2 linked regions of the Homo sapiens genome follow. The protein of the gene in region 2 interacts with the protein of the main gene of each other region in a biochemical or structural test. Each region holds a gene or a part of one and is shown on either strand. Other genes may lie near its edges. The genes, in order: MKRN1 and KCNH1.

Region 1 (9,665 bases), on a different chromosome or scaffold from region 2:
GTGGAGAGTTTGAGAATAATGTCATTGTGTCATTTTCCCCCTTTTTCAGCAATAATGCAATGACAAATTAGCAAAGGGCAAAATGAGTAGCAACTAAACAAAGTTTCTATGAGATCAACTTCTGAACTTCTACACAGTCATTTGAAAAAGATCTTCTCTTTCCCCTCATCCTTACTGGACTCTTAATAAACAGATGTGGGATGACTTAACATTAATATCCCACACCATCAATAATGTCAGGTTCTGAACTCTATTTGAACCCAGTGGCTCACACTACATTTTCTGATAATGACATTAAAATTGACTATGACTATGGCACAGTGGCTCACGCCTGTAATCTCAGCACTTTGGGAGGCTGAGGCTGGCGGATCACGAGGTCAGGAGATCAAGACCACCCTGGCTAACACAGTGAAACCCCGTCTATACTAAAAATACAAAAAATTAGCCAGGCGTGGTGGCGGGCGCCTGTAGTCCCAGCTACTCAGGAGGCTGAGGCAGGAGAATGGCGTGAACCCGGGAGGCGGAGCTTGCAGTGAGCTGAGATCCCACCACCGCACTCCAGCCTGGGTGACAGCGAGACTCCATCTCAAAAAAAAAAAAAAATTTACTATGACACTGTCAAAAGTCTTACCGAGGGTAGTGGTTTAAAGTACATACAAAACTCTTTGATATGCCTTCCTTCAAAAGGTAGAGCCCAATCCTCTCCCTTTACATGTGGGCTGGACTTAGTAACTTAGTCCAGAATCAGTGGAAATAACAGTATATGACTTCTGACACTAGGTCATAAAAGGCATTGTGGCTTTTCCTTGCCTCCTCTGTTAAATTGTTTGCTCTGGGGAAAGCTAGCTGCCAAGCTGCAAGGATACTAAAGTATCCCTATGAAAAGGCCCATGTGGGCCAGGCGGGGTGGCTCACGCCTGTAATCCCAGCGCTTTGGGAGGCAAAGGCAGGTGGACTGCCTGAGCTCAGGAATTTGAGACCAGCCTGGCCAACATAGTGAAACCCCGTCTCTACTAAAAATACAAAAGTTAGTGGGGTGTGGGCCGGGCGCGGTGGCTCATGCCTACAATCCCAGCACTTTGGGAGGCTGGTGTGGGCTGGTCAGGAGATCAAGACCATCCTTTCAACAAGGTGAAACCCCATCTCTACTAAAAATACAAAAATTAGCTGAGTGTGGCGGTGCATGCCTGTAATCCCAGCTACTCGGGAGGCTGAGGCAGGAGAATCACTTGAACCTGGGAGGTGGAGGTTGCAGTGAGCTGAGGCTGTGCCACTGAACTCCAGCCTGGCGACAGAGCTAGGCTCTGTCTCAAAAAAAAAAAAAAAAAAAAAAAAATTAGCCAGGTGTGGTGGTGCATGCTTGTAATCCTAGCTACTCTGGAGGCCAAGGCAGGAGAATCTCTCGAACGCGGGAGGCAGAGGTTGCAGTGAGCTGAGATCATGCCATTGCACTCCAGCCTGGGTGACCAGCAAAACTCCGTCTTGAAAAAAAAAAAAGGCCAAGTGGTGAGAAACCAAAGTCTCCTGCCAACAGTCATGAGAGTAAGACCTCTTAAAAACAATACTGGGCTAGGCACCATGGCTCACGGCTGTAATCTCAGCACTTTGGGAAGCCGAACCGCGTGGATCACCTGAGGTCAGGAGTTCGAGACCAGCCTGGCCAACATGGTGAAACTCCGTCTCTACTAAAAATACAAAAATTAGCTAGGTGTGGTGGCGGGCGCCTGTAATCCCAGCTACTCCGGAAGATGAGGCAGGAGAATCGCTTGAACCCAGGAGGCGGAGGTTGCAGTGAGCCGAAATTGCGCCACTGCACTCCAGCCTGGGCGACAAGAGCAAGACTCCATCCTAAACAAAACAAACAAAAAAACCCAAACAAACAAACAAAAAACAATGCTGGCTGGGCACTGTGTCTCACACCTGTAATCCCAGCACTCTGGGAGGCCGAGGTGGGCAGATCACTTGAGGTCAGGAGTTCGAGACTAGCCTGGCCAACATGATGAAACCCTGTCTCTGCCAAAAATATAAAAAATTAGCCGGGCATAGTGGCACGCAGATGTAATCCCATCTACTTGGGAAACTGAGGCAGGAGAATTGCTTGAATCTGGGAGGCAGAGGTTGCAGTGAGCCGAGATCTTGCCACTGCACTCCAGCCTGGGCAACAGAGGGACAAGACTCGGTCTCACACACACAAAAAATATCCTGGAGTCCCCATCAAGTCTTCAGATGACTTGCTAAAATTTTGACTGCCATCTCATAAGTGTCTCTGAGATAGAACCATCCAGCTAAGGCACTCACAGAATCCGGAACCCCAGAAACTGAGATAATAAATGTTCACTGTTTTAACCTACTAAATTTGGGGATGGGCCAGTTTCTGGGGCTCATGCTTGTAATCCCAACACTTTTCGGAGGCCAAGGCAGGAAGATTGCTTGAGCCCAGGAATCTGAGACCAGCCTACGCAACATATTAAGACCCCCATCTCTACAAAAAACTAAATAAATGAGGTGGTGCATCCCTGTGGTCCCAGCTACTTGGGAGGCTGAGGTGAGAGGATCATTTCAGCCTGGTAAGTTGAGGCTGCAGTGAGAAGTGACCACACCACTGCACTCCAGCCTGGGCAACACAGTAAGACCCTGTCTCAAAAAAATAAATAAAAAATAAATTTGAGGGTTACTTGTTTAACATCCACAGATAATACACCTAGTCATTTCTGAACTAGGAGGATAGAAAAGCCCTACCCAATTTTTTTTTAAGGTGGAGTCTCGCTCTGTTGCCCAGGCTGGAGCGCAGTGGCGGGCTCTTGGCTCAGTGCAACATCCACCTCCCGGGTTCATGCAATTCTCCTGCTTCAGCCTCCGAAGTAGCTGGGATTACAGACGCACACCACCATGCCCAGCTAATTTTTCTATATTTTGTAGACATGAGGTCTCACTAGGTTACCCAGGCTGGTCTCAAACTTCCAAGATCAAGCAATCCTCCTACCTAAGCATCCCAAAGTGCTGGGATTATAGGCATGAGCCACTGCCCAGCCAAGAGTCATTTTCAAAGCATTATTTTTAATCAGTGACATATAAAGCTATCAGAAGTATGTCTTTTACCTTTTTCCTCCAACCCACCCCTGAACAAATTTATAAACAAATTCTTACCTGCAGCGGTCTCCATAAATACAGTACCCTCGCTGAAAATACTTGCACACTACACTATACGGACTGTCAGAGAGGTCATGCGAGTAGCGACAGTTGTCTCCTTCCTTACAAACCCCATGCATAAAATACCTGTGAGACGAAAGACCACAAAACTGGATTAAAACCAATCCTTGAAAATATTAAAACTAATTAGTATTCATGACTAATATATTCAACCAGTAAATACACAAACATACGAAATAAACACAAAGAAAGGGCCAGGCATGGTGGCTCATGCCTGTAATCCCAGTACCTTTGGGAGGCTGAGGTGAGTGGCTCACCTGAGGTCAGGGGTCTAAGACCAGCGGTTCGAGACCAGCCTGGGCAACATGGTGAAACCCCGTCTCTACTAAAAATACAAAAATTGGCTGGTGTGGTGGCACACATGTTAATCCCAGCTACTCAGGAGGCTGAGGCAGGAGAACTGCTTACACGTGGGAGGCTGAGGTTTCAATGAGCCGAGATCGCGCCATTGCACTCCAGCCTGGGAGACAGAGCAAGACTCCATTTCAAAAAAAAAAAATAAAAAGAAGGTGATAAGAAAACAGGAGTAAAGCAAGTGTATTAGTCCGTTTTTGCATTGTGTTTTTGCTTTGTAGCTGGGACTACAGGCGCCGCCACCACGCCCGGCTAATTTCTTGTATTTTTAGTAGAGACAGGGTTTCACCATGTTAGCCAGGATGGTCTCGATCTCCTGACCTTGTGATCTGCCCACCTCGGCCTCCCAAAGTGCTGAGATTACAAGCGTGAGCCACTGCGCCTGGCCCTTGTTTTTGCATTGTTACAACGAACTATTTTGACATTCCAGCCTGGGTGATGGAGCACGACTATGACTCTGTCTCAAAAAAATGTAATAATAATACGCCTTAGATTATGAAAACTGTTTAACTTACATAACAAAAAGAAAAAAAAAGGGCCAGGCGTGGTGGCCCACACCTGTAATCCCAGCACTTTGGGAGGCCAAGGCGGATGGATCACGAGGTCAGGAGATCAAGACCATCCTGGCTAATATGGTGAAACCCCATCTCTACTAAAAGTACAAAAAATTAGCCGGGCATGGTGGCAGGCACCTGTAATCCCAACTACTCGGGAGGCTGAGGCAGGGATTGCAGTGAGCCGAGATCGTGCCATTGAGCCACTGCGCTCCAGCCTGGACAACAGAGAGACTCCATCTCAAAAAGAAAAAGAAAAAGAAAAAGAAAAAAAGATATAGTCTACGTCAAAGAATTTCTCCTCCAAACAAAAACCAATGAATATAAGTATATGTCTTGTTTTTAAATGATACCACCAAAAAAAAAAAAAAAAACATCATCCAGATTCACCCCAAGTTGAGTTTGCCTTCGGTGAAAACCTGGGCCATATATTATTTCTGAAGTTCCTTCCACTGTGCAGACTCTGTCTCCATGAGACACTGTGCAGTAAAAGACAAAATTTACTAGAATCCCCCTACTGCTGTGCCTCTTAGAAACCTAATAGTGGCCCCCAACATAGAGAACAAGAAACTGCCAAGTTACCCTGTAAGGGTACAAGAGAACCAAACAGCACCCTCAGAGTATCTCTAGGCATCTTAACAACCTCTTTAGGAATTTCTACAAATTATAGAATAGATAAGGCATTTAATCAATTCATCTGCAGTGACACTTCTTACTTTGATATTTAACTTTTAATGAGTGAGTATACCATTTATCAAACTAGATTATAAATTCCTGATGGGTAAAGACTGGTTTATTCCCCTTTTTATCTCCAACTATCTGTGCACATAATATATACTTGTTAGAAAAAGGTAGAAAGCCGGGTTCGGTGGCTCATGCCTGTAATCCCAGCACTTTGGGAGGCCAAGGCGGGTGGATTACCTGAGGTTGGGAGTTTGAGACCAGCCTGACCAACATGGTGAAAGCGGTACCTACTAAAAATACAAAAATTAGCCGAGTGTGATGGTACAAGCCTGTAATCCCAGCTACTCTGGAGGCTGAGAGAGGAAAATCGCTGGAACCCAGGAGATGGCGATTGCACCGAGCCAAGATTGTATCACTGCACTCTAGCCTGGGCAACAACAGCGAAACTCCGTCTCAAAAAAAAAAAAAAAAGAAAGAAAGAAAGAAAGAAAGAAAGAAAGAAAGAAAGAAAGAAAGAAAGAAAGAAAGAATAAAAGACTGTAGGGTGGGCCCGGTGGCTCACACCTACAATCCCAGCACTTTGGGAGGCAGAGGCAGGTGGATCACCTGAGGTCAGGTGTTCAAAACCAGCATGGCCAACATGGTGAAACCCACTATCTACCAAAAATACAAAAATTAGGCCAGGTGCGGTGGCTCACACCTGTAATCCCAGCACTTTGGGAGGCTGAGGCAGGTGGATCATGAGGTCAGGAGCTCAAGACCATCCTGGCTAACACAGTGAAACCCTGTTTCTACTAAAAATACAAAAAAAACAAACAATTAGCCAGGCATGGTGGCACACACCTGTAGTCCCAGCTACTTGGGAGGCTGAGGCAGAATTGCTTGAACTCGCAGTGGGTTGGGGGGGGCCCAGAGGTTGCAGTGAACCAGGATCACGCCACTGAGACTCCGTCTCAAAAAAAAAATAAATAAATAAAAGGCTGTAGAAGACAGCTAGATGTGATGGTGAATCATGGTAGCGATAGCAAATTAATTTTTCTTTCCCAGTTGCATAATCTTTTTAATACCATTTAATATTTATTACTTATTTCCTCTCACAACCACTATGTAGTTTCCAAGTAATAAATTTCACTATGGACGTCACAGCACTCAGATAAAGAATTTCTGAAGGATTTCCTTCTTTCTTTTTTTTTTTTTTTGAGACGAAATCTCACTCTGTCACCCAGGCTGGAGTGCAGTGGTGCAATCTTGGCTCACTGCAGCCTCTGCCTCTTGGGATCAAGTGATTCTCCCACCTCAGCCTCCAGAGTGGCTGGGATTACAGGTGCCCGCCACCACGCCCAGCTAATTTTTGTATTTTTAGTAGAGAACGGGTTTCGTCATGTTGGCCAGGCTGGTCTCGAACTCCTGACCTCAAGTGATCCACCTGCCTTGGCCTCCCAAAGTACTAGAATTACAGGGGTGAGACACCACGCCCAGCTGATCTTTAAGTTACGTTAACCACATTTTTAAAAACTTTTGAGGCCAGGTACGGGGGCTCATGCCTGTAATCCCAGGACTTCGGGAGGCCAAGGTGGGTGGATCACCTGAGGTCAGGAGTTCAAGACCAGCCTGGGCAACATGGTGAAACCCCATCTCTACTAAACGTACAAATAATTAGCCGAGTGTGATGGCACGTGCCTGTAATCCCAGCTTCTCGGAAGGCTGAGGCACCAGAATTCCTTGAACCCAGGAGGCAGAGGTTGTAGTGAGCCGAGATCGTGCCACTGCACTCCAGCTTGGGCGACACAGACTCCATCTCAGAAAACAAACAAACAAACAAACAAAACACAACTTTCAAGGCCAAGCATGGTGGCTCACACCTGTAATCCCAGCACTTTAGGAGGCCGAGGCGGGTGAAACACTTGAGCTTAGGAGTTCAAGACCAGCCTAGGCAACAGGGTGAAACCCTGTCTCTATCAAAAATGCAAAAAAAAATTAGCCTGGGGTGGTGGCACGTGCCTGTAATTCCAGCTACTGGGGAGGTTCAAGCAGGAGGATTGCTTGAGCCTGGGAGGTGGAGGCTGCAATGAGCCAAGACACTGCCACTGCATTCCAGCCTAGGGGACAGAGCGAGACCCTATCTCAAAAAATACAAATAAATACAAATAAAAATCAAGAAAAGAGTTTTTTGAAAAATTAAAAATTAAACACTTGTTTTTTTGTGTATTATTTCAACTACCAGAACACTTATCTGCCATTATAGAAGCACTCTAATAAAGAGGGGTCTAAATTCAAATTACAACTTCTCTTTAAGTATTAACTGTTCTAACCTCACACACTCAAGGTAACTCAAGGTAGCAGATGCAATGAGCATTTCTGTTTCTTAGTATTGCTCTAATAAAAGATATGAAAAACAGCCTGGTGGTGGCAGCATAACACAGTTTCTGAGGAAAGGTATAAAACACAATGAAAACCCCAGGAGAAACATTAGAAAAAATGTAACCAGTAGGAAAATACAGGTGATTCCGAGCAATTAAAAACATTCTAATCAAAACTTCTAAGTGAAGAAAATAGCTTTAGTCAAATTCCTAGATACAGGAGTGATGTGCTATAGGGAGAAATGAGCACAAACACTAAAACACACCTCTACCTGATTCTTTAGGTGATGTTTACCTAGCAAACATATTGAAAATGTTTATTTATAATACAGTACATACATCTGCACTCTCTTGAACACCTAATATTGTGTCTCCCATTGCTGGCGTGCAATGTTTACTTACTGAATGATTGAATAAGGTAGTTCCAGAAAAAATATACATGTGGCCGGGCGTAATCCCACCTACTCAGGAGGCTGAGGCAGGAGAATCGCTTGAACCCAGGAGGCAGAGGTTGCAGTGAGCTGAGATCTCGCCACTGCACTCCAGCCTGGGCGACAGAGCGACACTCCATCTCAAAAAAAAAAAAAAAAAAGGAAGATACACATGTGTTCTGTTAAGTACTTTGTCTTTGGTAATTTACAAGTTTTGTTTTTTTTTTTTTTAATGAAAGCAGAGGAATCTTACAAAGTTCCTGTTAAAGTGGGTAATTCTAGGTATATGACTTTATCAACATCACTCAAGCATTTACTCAGTATCTGCTCAGGATACTCAGTAACTGAGTATCCTGTTCATGATACTGGAACTGAGGAAAGAAACTGAGGAACTGAGGAAAGAAAGCCCTGCAGATAAAATAGGGCCCTACTCTTCTCAGAGAGCTCAAAGTGAACGATAAGGATCATAGACCGGGTGCGGTGGCTCACGCCTCTAATCCCAGCACTTTGGGAGGCTGAGGCCGGCAGATCACCTGAGGTCGGGAGTTCAAGACCAGCCTGACCAACACGGAGAAAGCCCGTCTCTACTAAAAATACAAAATTAGTCAGGTGGGCATGGTGGTGCACGCCTGTAATCCCAGCTACTAAGGCATCTGTAATGCCAGAGACTGAGGCAGGAGAATCAATTAAACCTGGGAGGCGGGGGTTGTGGTAAGTAGAGATCACACCATTGCACTCCAACCTGGGAAACAAGAGGGAAACTCTGTCTCAAAAAAAAAAAAAAAAAAATGATAGTTGACATTCCTCTATCTAAAGGAGAAAATAGTTTTAAGTAAGAGATCATGTTGGTACCTAGAACAACCGAAAACAATGTCAAACACTAAAACCCCAGACCTATCAAGGAATCTGCACAACAATAAAAAACTGTCTCAAGCAAAAGCTATACAAAAAACCCCCAAAAACTAGTAAATCTAAGCTCTTTCTTTTCTTTCTTTTTCTTTTTTGTTTTTCTTCTGACAGAGTTTCACTTTCGCCCAGGCTGGAGTGAAGTGGTGTGATATTGGCTCACCGCAACCTCTGCCTCCTGGGTTCAAGCAACTCCCTGCCTCAGCCTCCGGAGTAGCTGAGATTACAAGCGCCTGTCACCACGCCCGGCTAATGTTTTTTGTATTTTCAGTAGAGACGGGGTTTCACCATCTTGGCCAGGCTGGTCTTGAGCTCCTGACCTCGTGATCCACCTGCCTTGGCCTCCCAAAGTGCTGGGATTACAGGTGTGAGCCACTGTGCCCGGCCTAATTTTTGTATTCTTAGTAGAGACAGGGTTTCACCATGTTGGCCAGGCTGGTCTCGAACTCCTTACCTCAGGCGATCCGCCCGCCTCAGCCTCCCAAAATGCTGGGATTACAGGCGTGAGCCACCACGCCGACCTAGCCACCCCGACAGGCCGGTTTCAATCTTTTAAAAGATGTAACTAGCACATATAGATCAACTGTAGCATTGTAAAAGGGAAACAGATATTCAAATAATTTGCTCCATGAGTAGAAACTTTAAAATCATCATTCCTGGCAATATTCCACTTTTACAATCCACCGATGAATAAGACAAGTGACCTGAAATTGCGTTTATGCTTTCTACATCCCATTATGTAAAATAATTAAGCTTATCCTTCACACCTTAAATGTATCATATCAAAGGCTGAGAGACCTTCGAAGGTCGCCAGGATAAATGTATCACATCAAAGACTGGGAAGGTTTCAAATTTCACCCTTAATACTACAAGTTCTAATTAGGAATCATTTTTACATACTTGCATATAAATTATACCACCCAGGTGAAAACCGGCATTTCAGTTGATTTATTCAACTGATAGAAAAAGAAAAGCTTACAGTCGCTACTGATCACTATTTAAAAACCGGAAAATAAAAAACGTACAATTAAATGCCCTCTTCTGCGTAGAGCTAGGTAGTTTTTTACAACCATACACATCCATACAACCGCCATCCCTTAATTTTTCTAATATTTTCGTCTCGCATATCAAACCAAAACCAAACCTCTCTCTCTTCCGGGAGCGAA
Region 2 (9,771 bases):
CCGCTCACTGCAATCTCCGCCTCCTGGGTTCAAGCTATTATCTAGCCTCAGCCTCCCAAGTAGCTGGGATTACAGGTGCCTGCTACCACGCCCAGCTAATATTGTATTTTTAGTAGAGATGGGGTTTCACCATGTTGGACAGGCTGGTCTCAAACTCCTGATCTCAGCTGATCCACCTGCCTCGGCCTCCCAAAATGTTGGGATTATAGGTGTGAACCACTGCCCCCGGCTTAATTGTATGTTTCTATTTAATCTTTAAATCCCTTGCACTTTGGCTCCCTCTCTACTATTCCATTGAAAATGTTTCCACTAAAGTATCAAATGGCCAACTAATCATTAGAGCTAATGGACATTTTCCAGTGTTTATCTCTACAGTGTACAATAAATGATGCTTTTCTTCTTTCTTTTCATTTAAAGACCTTTCCCCTCTGGGCTTCTATAAAACCACTTCTCTCGGTTCCCTCCACTTCTAAACTGCTCCTTCTCAGTCTCCTTTGAAAGCTATAAACTGATGATTTCCAATTTTGAGCACCACCCAGATGTTTCTCTTGGGTTCTAGATGTGAATATCCAACTACCTACTTGATATTTCTCTGAAATGTCCTGCAGGCAACTCAGCCTTTTCATAACTGAATACAATTTTCCCCAAGTTTGTTTTAAGAATTGAAGTATAGTGATATTGACATTGTTCATGAACTTCAAAGTAGGAGAAATTTTACATGAATGGAGAAGAGCAGTGGTTTAAATATGGCAATGAGGAACTAGACAATTTCTCACTTCAACTTCTGGCTTCTAGGTACATGGACTGTGACAGAATAAATATATTCCAAAAAAGTGGGACCGACGGGACTCTGAGACTTTAGGGGAAAGCCAGATCTCAGTTAAGAGGAGGAAAGAAAGTCTTAGCTGGGTGTGGTGGCTCATGCATTTAATCCCAGAATTTAGGGAGGCTGAGGTGGGAGGATTACTTGGGCTCAGGCCCAGGAGTTCGAGACCAGCCTGGGAAACATAGGGAGACCCTGTCTCTACAAGAAAAAAAAAAAATTAGCTAGGTATGGTGGCCTGCCCCTATAGCTACTTAGGAGGCTGAGGTGGGAGGATCACTTGAGATCAGGAAGTTGAGCCTGCAGTGAGCCATGATTTTGCTACTGCAGTCCAGCCTAGGCAACAGATCAAGACCCTGTCTCAAAAAAAAAAAAAAAAAATCTTAAGCGAAGAGGTCAAGTTGAACTATAGATTATTTAAAAAGAAAGGAAGATTTAGAGGGCACATTGGAGACAGGAAAGCAGTTGAAAGAAATGACGAAGAACATACACATTCATTAAATATTTGTTGAATTTCTTGAGGGCAGGTGCCAATCATAACCATCTTTTAATCCTTAGAACCTATCCCTGTCTGCTATATACTAGACACGATGCAAATGTTTGTCATAATAAAATGAGACTGTTGTAAATGACTTTTAATTATTTCCCACTGAGGGAAGGGTGTGATGAAAGATCCTTTTCTCTTTTGTTTAGAGGAAATGAGAAAGAAGAATAGCTTAGGGCACTTGGAAGGATATAATTCAATTCTACAAACATTTCACACTATCTATTGGGTTAACCATGGGTGAGTGTAGACCCACATCAGTGCATTCTTTTCCCCAGTCAATTAGATTCAGGGACTAGTATTTCCTTTGAAGCAGATTCTGTCCATTCTCCCAACACTAGGGAAATACATCTATAGCAGGGAATCTTTTTTTTTTTCAATGGATATAGTCTGCCCAACATTCTTCCTATAAGATTATTCAAATAGAAGTTTTGTTAACAGAAATCACATATAATAAGTCAGTCAGTCATTGGGCTATAGAAGCTGAAATTTCTCATGCTGCAAATTCCTCCACTTTTAGATATTTAGATATTTCACTCCTGGTGGCTGAGTAGTGAAGTCGCCTCTATGTTCAATTTCTCCTCCGCTTAAGTTGCTAATGACGATGCATCCATGGCCTGCCCCTTCCAGCTCGCAGACCTAGGACTCACAGGCAACTTTCCTATGTTAGAGAGGTTCCTGGCTTTCTAAAATCTGTCACCCACACCATGTGGTCTTAATGGAAGGAAAAATGAAGTTCCTGTCTTTATATGATAACATTTGCCCCTTCTGATGTGTGGCATTGTCATCCTCTTCATTTGATAGACTTGTTGTTGTTGTTGGGAGAGATTTTTCTGTCATCTCCTGGACTCTTTTCCCAGCCAATCTGCAGATCACCATCTCCATATTCTCCCTATAGCATTATGCCTTCATCACTATCTATTACTTTTGTGAACTCACTAATTACAGTGTAGCTTAATAGCATTTATAAGAACAAAAATTGTTATAGTGTGTCTTTGTTTCAAGGAGCTCACAATCTACGGTGTGATACAGACATAAACACATCTTATAGCTAAGGGGTAAACAAAATGCTGAGGGATACAGGAGGAAAGAAGCCTAGAAATAGTAGACTCACATTTTAGAATTTATTTCAGACTCTGTATCTGAACTCTGTATCCCTGCAGAAAATGGGCTACATTTTCTGCATGGAAGGATAGAGGCAGTTGAATTGGAACTCTGGTCACAGTTATTTAAAGTTGTCCCTTTAAATGAAGGAGTGGCTTTGTCTGTTATGCAAAAATATAAGCGTTCTCAATTGGTTTGCCATGGTACATTGGTATATTGTGAATCCTTTAGAAATCTGTTACCAAGTTTTGACAAATCTGTAAGATTAAAGTTTACTCTAACTGAGATTCCCATATTACAGAGGTAGATCTCAGACAGAACTTTAAGTTGAGCAGGTGCTGGAACTGAATGTCAAGGAGGGAACAAAAGGTGGCAAGTAAAAGGTAAGAAGCACAGTATCCCGTCAACTAGCACCAAGAAAGAGGGAGTGTTTACTGGAATATTGAGAATGTGGCTGTGGACAGGGCAGAACATGATTTTATTCCTGCAGTCAGATGTGTTGTGAGTGAACCAAGGGAATGGGGGAAAAACTGGATGTACCTCCACAGACACCATGAGACACTCACATTGTGATGAAAGACTGCTGACTTTTTAGCAATTTAATTCTTAAATATTTATTTTATTTAAAAATCCATGAACACCTCCAGCTTTTTTTTTTTTTTTTATGGCAAAACAGTTCATTGTAGCTGTTCACGTAGTAATTATCTTCCTCTTGCATCCCCAGGTAATGACTGTGATCTTGACCTAAAAGCCACCTTAGTTAGTTTGAATAAGGAAGACCTTGAAAGGAAAGGTAACTGACCAGAAACACTCTTAAGAAGCACACAATGAAGAAATGATCATTTCTAAGCAAGTACTTAAAGTGCCATAACACAGTATAACAGTGCTTTTATAAGCATCCAGTCTTATTTAAGCAAAAAGACGTAAAATAATGTGATCGTGTTATGGCACACAATCTGGAGGTTTAAAACTTTAAAAAAAAGAACCACTTTGTAGTAGCACTATTTTGTTTTAGGTCTTTTAATTTCTTCAAGTGTGCCACCAAAAATTGTAGTATTCAAAAAGGTGCCAATACACACACACATACACACACACACAGAGTCCATGTTGAGATCCATTTCAGTAGTACATTTAAAATGGAAGACATCTTATTTCTTTTTCTCATCAGGTTGCCCACCAAGGCTTTAACATCTCTGATCTCAAACTAATATCATCTGTTTCCTTTTTTATCTAAGCCACAGAACATGAGAGCTCATTAAAACCTTAGAAATTTTATTAACTCTCTATGATAGTTTTCCCCTCCACATTATTTTCTTTATCTTCCTTTCACAAGCAGGATTATGAGGTTTCTTGATGGGTTTTTAATATTGTCATGAAAAATCTTCCCTTGGCATGTTTGTGCGATAACACAACTTTAAAAACCTTATTTAAATGAACTTATTCAAATGAAGTGGATAGGCACCAAACTGGCTCAGCTCAGCACCAAATACATTTCAGAATCAAGTTCTCTTCAACCAGTGTTATCTCATTTGTAATAGAACAAAGAACCACTAGACGGAGCTAGGGTTTAAGAAATCACTGTTCTAGACTAGGTAACAGGCGATGGGTAGAAGGCTATCTTAAGGAAAAAGTGTATCATTACTTGCATTTCAAATCCTATGACAGTCTTATCCAACTCTCTGCTAACAGCAATCTGTTTACTTTGTCTCTACACAAGACGAGATAAAGGGTGATATTCGTAATGGCCCAATTTATTTAGTCACTCCAATAATGACGTCTGACCTTGGCACAGCACTTTACAATTTAAGGTGCTGTCCCCATACATAATTCTTGCTTGATCTTCACAGCAACTCTGAGAGATTTCTGGGCAAGAATTAGTTCTTCTGTTTTTGAAATTAATTAACTGAGACAGGATGTCTTTGCAATACATTAGGATATGTCAGGATGGCTAACCCAGACAATTAATTTTCAGGGTTAGTTTTTTTTTCTCTTACATTTTTGTGTTGACTGTTGACTCAGTCTGAAACTAGTAAACTCTCCATTCATTTCTCCTGTGGGACATAGGCTTAGTCTCCCACCGCACCGACTGGGGATACATAGTAAAAAGGCAGGTACAGACTATGTGTGGGTCGAAATCCCCCAAAATAAGTGAACAAACGACCGTTGTCTTAGCCCCTGTCCAGAAACCTTGGGTGTATGTGGTTCTTCCGTATACCAGGGGTCAGCTGTAAAAACTAACTGTATCCTCTGCACTACAGACTACCCTTCAAGCCAAAGCCACGGTTGCTTAATTAATGCTGCCCCTCTCCTGAGCATTCGCCCTTAGAGACAAGTCCACCCCTTTGATGTTTGTCAGGCAGTTTGATACTGATCATACCAAACATCAGGAGCCTGCATTTGTGTCTACGGTAAAAACAACCCAAGACAACTCTTCTGAAGCTGAATCTGCCAGTCACTCTAAATCTGCACTATTGCAATACGACTTCATTAATTACTGCTCAAACACTGGCCTAGAATCAAGGTGGGGCAACTTTCACTAGTCAGGCTAACCTTACAGGAAGGCAAGAAGGTGTTCCCAGAGCCTCACAGGTCCCGGGGGCCCCGGCCTGAAACAGAGCAAAGGAAGAGAGTTACATCAGCACGCTCCCCTAAGACTTGTTGGGGGTGAATCCGCCCTGAAAGCTGCTCACAATGCCCTCCTCTCCACCCAGCCCATGGCACATCCTGAACACATTTCCCGGCTGAACCCAGAGGGTGGCGCTGCCGTCCCAGCCTTGGTCCACGGCCGCCCGCCACTTCCCTGCCTCTGCGGGAGCCCCCCAGCTTGGTCTCCCGCAGGCCGGCGGTGGGGCACGAGCCCGGTAGGGGGCGCCGCCGGCCCAGGCGCCGCTGCTCCCTCCGCCCACCCGGAGGCGGCTGCCGCTAGCCGAGGCCGGCGCGAGTGCACTGCGAGGCGGGCCGCAGGGAGGGAGGCGCGAAGAGGGCGCGAGGGTAGCAGCCAGAGGGAGCCGCCAGCCCTGCCTGCGGATCCCCGCCGGGCGCATGGGGCGCTTCGAGCCGGGACTGCGTGCGGGCCCCGAGGCCAGTTTCCTGCTGTCGTAAGAAGCCGCGCCAGGACGCCCGCCGGACCCCGAGCTGCTGGGAGGATGACCATGGCTGGGGGCAGGAGGGGACTAGTGGCCCCTCAAAACACGTTTCTGGAGAATATTGTTCGGCGGTCCAATGGTAAGAGGTGCATTCGGATTTCGATTACCCGGGCGTTTTATCCGTGCCTTTATTGCAGAACCTCTCGCCGCTCGGAGCCAGCAGATGCAGCAGAACCCGCGAGCTCTGCTAAGGAGCCGCGGCGCGGGCACCCAGGGCAGCCTCCCCGAGGCAGAGAAAGGTGGGCAGGGCGGGGCGGGGTCTGATGGGTCCCCATCCTAACAGGAGAGCTCTTCTGGGGACGCCTTTTGGGCCTTTCTAGCGCCCTCTCGGTCTTATCTCCAAGGATGCGTGACAGCTGCTGAGCAAAGTACTGGGAAAAGTGATGGAAAGCTGGCTGCAGCCGGAGCGGCAGCGCGCGCCCCATCGGCACTGCCCACCCTTCCGCGAAGGCTCTGGGGCTCCCGGGCTGCTCCCAGAGGCGCCGCCTCTCCCCAGGGAGAGCCAGCAGTAGAGACGGGCAACTCCAGGTCCCCGCTGCCTCAGAATGGGAGGATCCGGCTGCCTCCACCTTCCATCCCTGCAACTGAAAAGTCCGAGGTGTCGGGACGTGCTCTCGGCGGCCTGATTCCACCCCTTCACCCACCCACCACTTTCTAGGTGAAGTTAAGGCTCACCTTCGAAGTGAGGGGCAGATGGTTTTCCTGGCGTCAGGTGGGAAGTGGAGGGCACAGGTGCAGAGCGAACTAAATGGTCACAGGTACAAACCTGTTATATTTCCCCTCTTCCAAACCCACAACGGTTTTATGCCACCCTTAAGTGTTGCTCACCTATAAATTCCCAATCTCACCAAACCTATAAATAGATCCATTACCCAATAAACTGACAATCAGCACTCATCTGTTTCCTTGTGGCATTAAGATCGACGGTAGCATGAAGCCTTGAGAGGCGAGAGTCCTAGGAGCGGGGATGGAAAGGAAGAATTCCAAACGCCTTTCGGACTTAACAGAGGAGAGACCCCAACTAAGCACTTGCAGAGCGACTAGGAGTCCTGGCAGTTGGAAGGCGCAGCGCACGAGTTCATCAAATGGCTATATTGAAAGATAGCCAAGCATAAGATGCTCTTTGCAGACTCCTAGAGCCCCCACCCCACCCCTTCCAGAAACAGATGACATTCTTCTACCAGGGAGACATGAGGAGCTAACTTAGGAAATGGGTTTTAATAATGTGTAAATATCACGATTTCAGAGTCTAAGGAGCTTCTGTGTAAAATGATGAGCTTCTGTTTGGATTTAGTTAGGGATTCAGGGGAAGGGCATGAAAAGTGACTTATGCTACTAATAAACACTCTTTAATTAAACAGTGATTTAAGTTTATCTTATAATGAAACACATCAACTAGCATAGCAAATAATCACGTATTATTTAAGTACTTTCTTAGAAATGATCATTTCTTTATTGTGTGCCTCTTAAGAGTGTTTCTGGTCAGTCACCTTTCCTTTCAAGGTCTTCCTTATTCAAACTAAGGTGGCTTTTAGGTCAAGGTCACAGTCATTACCTGGGGATGCAAGGGGATGATAATTGCTATGTGAACAGCCACAATGAACTGTTTTGCCATAAAAAAGCTGGAGTTGTTCATTTATTTTTAAATAAAATAAGAGTTACTGTGCTATTATTGCTATTTTTATTGGACTATTAAGGGGTATGGAGACAATCTTGCAAATTTGGTTATCCCATTGTCAGTGACACCAACTTTCTCATAAATATCAATGACAATTCTATTTTTCAGTAAAGAGGCAGTGCCCTGTAAGTTAGAGGGGAAACCCAGTACCTAATGTATACTGTGTATGTTTTTGAGTGGAGGGAGCAGGAAGAGAAACTTACATGTAAAAGTCACAAGATGCCTTGGGTTTTAAGGGAACCTTAAGAATCTTGGAGCTGTGAAGGCAGAATACTGTCTATTTTAGTTGATCTTATTAGAGCCACTTTCCCTCTGTAATCATAGAATGTGAATAGAATAAGTCACTGGGAATATTTTTAGGATGGGCATTGTCATTTCAACACCAGTTTCAGCAGGTTGATTTCAATTAACCAATCAAATGAATAGCATCAAAAAAAATGAAGCATCTTGGGAGAGTTGGATGAATTTTTAAAATTATTATTTCAGAATAAATGGTTCTCATCTTGAAATATGGGACTCAATGTTTAAAAGGTGATCCCTTTTATAATATTTCCTGAACACAAATGGAAGAAAAAATGTGAACTCCTAGAAATATCACAATATCTGCATGCATTATATTATTTTACTGTGGTGGAAAAAGTCTATTTAAAGATATTGATTGTCTCATTCTAAAATCCATGAGCCCTTTTTTGGACATTACGGTATTAAAATAGCATTTTACCTTTGAATAGCAATATTTTATGATCATTTTATTAGATATTTTCTCCCAGTGGTCCTGTGCAGTATTAATGTTCCTCTTTTACAGATCAGAAAACTGAGTCCTAGGAATATTAAGTGGCTTATTCAAAGTGGCAGAGCAAACAATGCCTGAGGCTGGTATTCCTTAGAGGACATCTATCATATATCCTTCTCTCAGCATTATAATTTCTCCAGCTTTTATGACTTAGTCTGTGGAACTATTTTTATCATCCTTTAAAAACTTCTCATATGATAATGAATAATAGTACTGACTTCATTTTGGGTTATTTGAATATCTGATGCCCGGAATATCATAGAGCTGTGGGAAGAGACAGACCTTAAATATTATCTAGTCTGCCTCTCCTTCCCCATCATTGTATAAATAAGGAAATTGATGCAAGAGGCTTTCCTCAAATATTTAAGGGCAGAACTAATGAGGCCCCAAACCATTTGAGTCCAATGTCAGATTCTTTATGGTACACCATGCAAAAACCCTTTCCTCATGTTACCATTATATTCTCTCAAGAAGCATAATTTCCCAGTGGAGATTAAATAAAATGTTATAACAACAAGAACAACATCCATCTTGGCTAACAGCCACACTACCACATCTCAACAGAATAATAGGGCAAAGGAAAGGCTAATTATATTTCAAGGAAATGCAGTCTGTTCACCTTTGTCAGTGGTTTAGCTGAAGGCAAAGGCGGGGATAATGGGCACTTAACATCTGTGTGCCCCATTATAAAGTACCAAGTCACTTTTCACAGAGTATCACCTTTGATCCTCATAAGCTAGTAGAGGAGGTGCAGTCTCTCCATTTTAGAGTTTAAGGAACTAAAATCCTTAAACTAAAACTCACCTAAGAATCCTCAGGTTAAGTGATTTACCTACAATTCGTAAGAGGCAGAATTAGGAAAAGGCAATTAGAGACAGATCAGGGACTAGCCAGCAGTTGTTTTTGGTTTATTCATTCAACAAAGATTTATTGAATGTATTTATGGAACACTGAGGATACAGTGGTAAACAAGAAACCCTCCTTGTGATTAGTAAATTACATTCTAGTGAATCTTGGTCCAAGGTTCTTGCCCCTATTTTACAGTGTTGACCGGCTGCGACTGTTTAGGCCTGTCACTGTATTTAAAAAACATTTCTAAGGTGTTTACTGGTCTTGCTGGTACTAAAACCGACTTTTAACTTTCTTTGGTACATTTTGAATCCCATTTAAGGAAAGATTTGATAATTATCTGTTCTTTAAATTGCCGTAAGTAGGCAGCAGAAATAATTAATACTCCATATTTTATTTGATTTTGCTTATGGTCATGTCAGTGATCATTTTAAATCCTACTGGCTTTGTTGCCACATAGGCAAAACCAGCCTGTTTCTCTTTATATTCATGGTTGGAAACTGTTGTTACAGAATATTTTTTGATAGTTGCTTAAATCTGCAGGCACTTGTTGTCAGAATGTTTGCTGAAGCAAATAGGAGATCTGTCTTAGAAAGGCTGGCAGACCTTGGTGCCAGGAAACTACAAAAATATTACTCTAAATGGTCCCATTCTGGGCAGAACATATGTTTTAGTGTTCGGGAACCTATATCAAACAATTGTAGGTGCCAGTAAAAATCCATGCACATTAGCAGGAGTGAAACACAGCACATTTTGGTACAGATTTATGTACATGTATAATTTACAGATTGCTAAATCAGCTGTGTTTTTGTATAGTGTTAAGTTGGTTCAGGT

The links.
Region 1: the proteins of KCNH1 (region 2) and MKRN1 form a complex in vitro, tested with the Homo sapiens proteins (one study listed by BioGRID).

The regions. Positions count from the first base shown.
Region 1 is NC_000007.14:140,468,736-140,478,400, forward strand, and holds part of MKRN1 (E3 ubiquitin-protein ligase makorin-1), read right to left. Parts: intron 9,663-9,665; exon of another isoform or gene 9,644-9,662; intron 5,755-9,643; exon of another isoform or gene 5,646-5,754; intron 5,093-5,645; exon of another isoform or gene 5,040-5,092; intron 3,277-5,039; coding exon 3,148-3,276; intron 1-3,147. UniProt on the Homo sapiens protein: E3 ubiquitin ligase catalyzing the covalent attachment of ubiquitin moieties onto substrate proteins. These substrates include FILIP1, p53/TP53, CDKN1A and TERT.
Region 2 is NC_000001.11:211,129,792-211,139,562, reverse strand, and holds the start of KCNH1 (voltage-gated delayed rectifier potassium channel KCNH1), read left to right. Parts: upstream 1-5,414; 5' UTR 5,415-5,617; coding exon 5,618-5,696; intron 5,697-6,188; exon of another isoform or gene 6,189-6,375; intron 6,376-6,536; exon of another isoform or gene 6,537-7,284; intron 7,285-9,771. UniProt on the Homo sapiens protein: Pore-forming (alpha) subunit of a voltage-gated delayed rectifier potassium channel that mediates outward-rectifying potassium currents which, on depolarization, reaches a steady-state level and do not inactivate.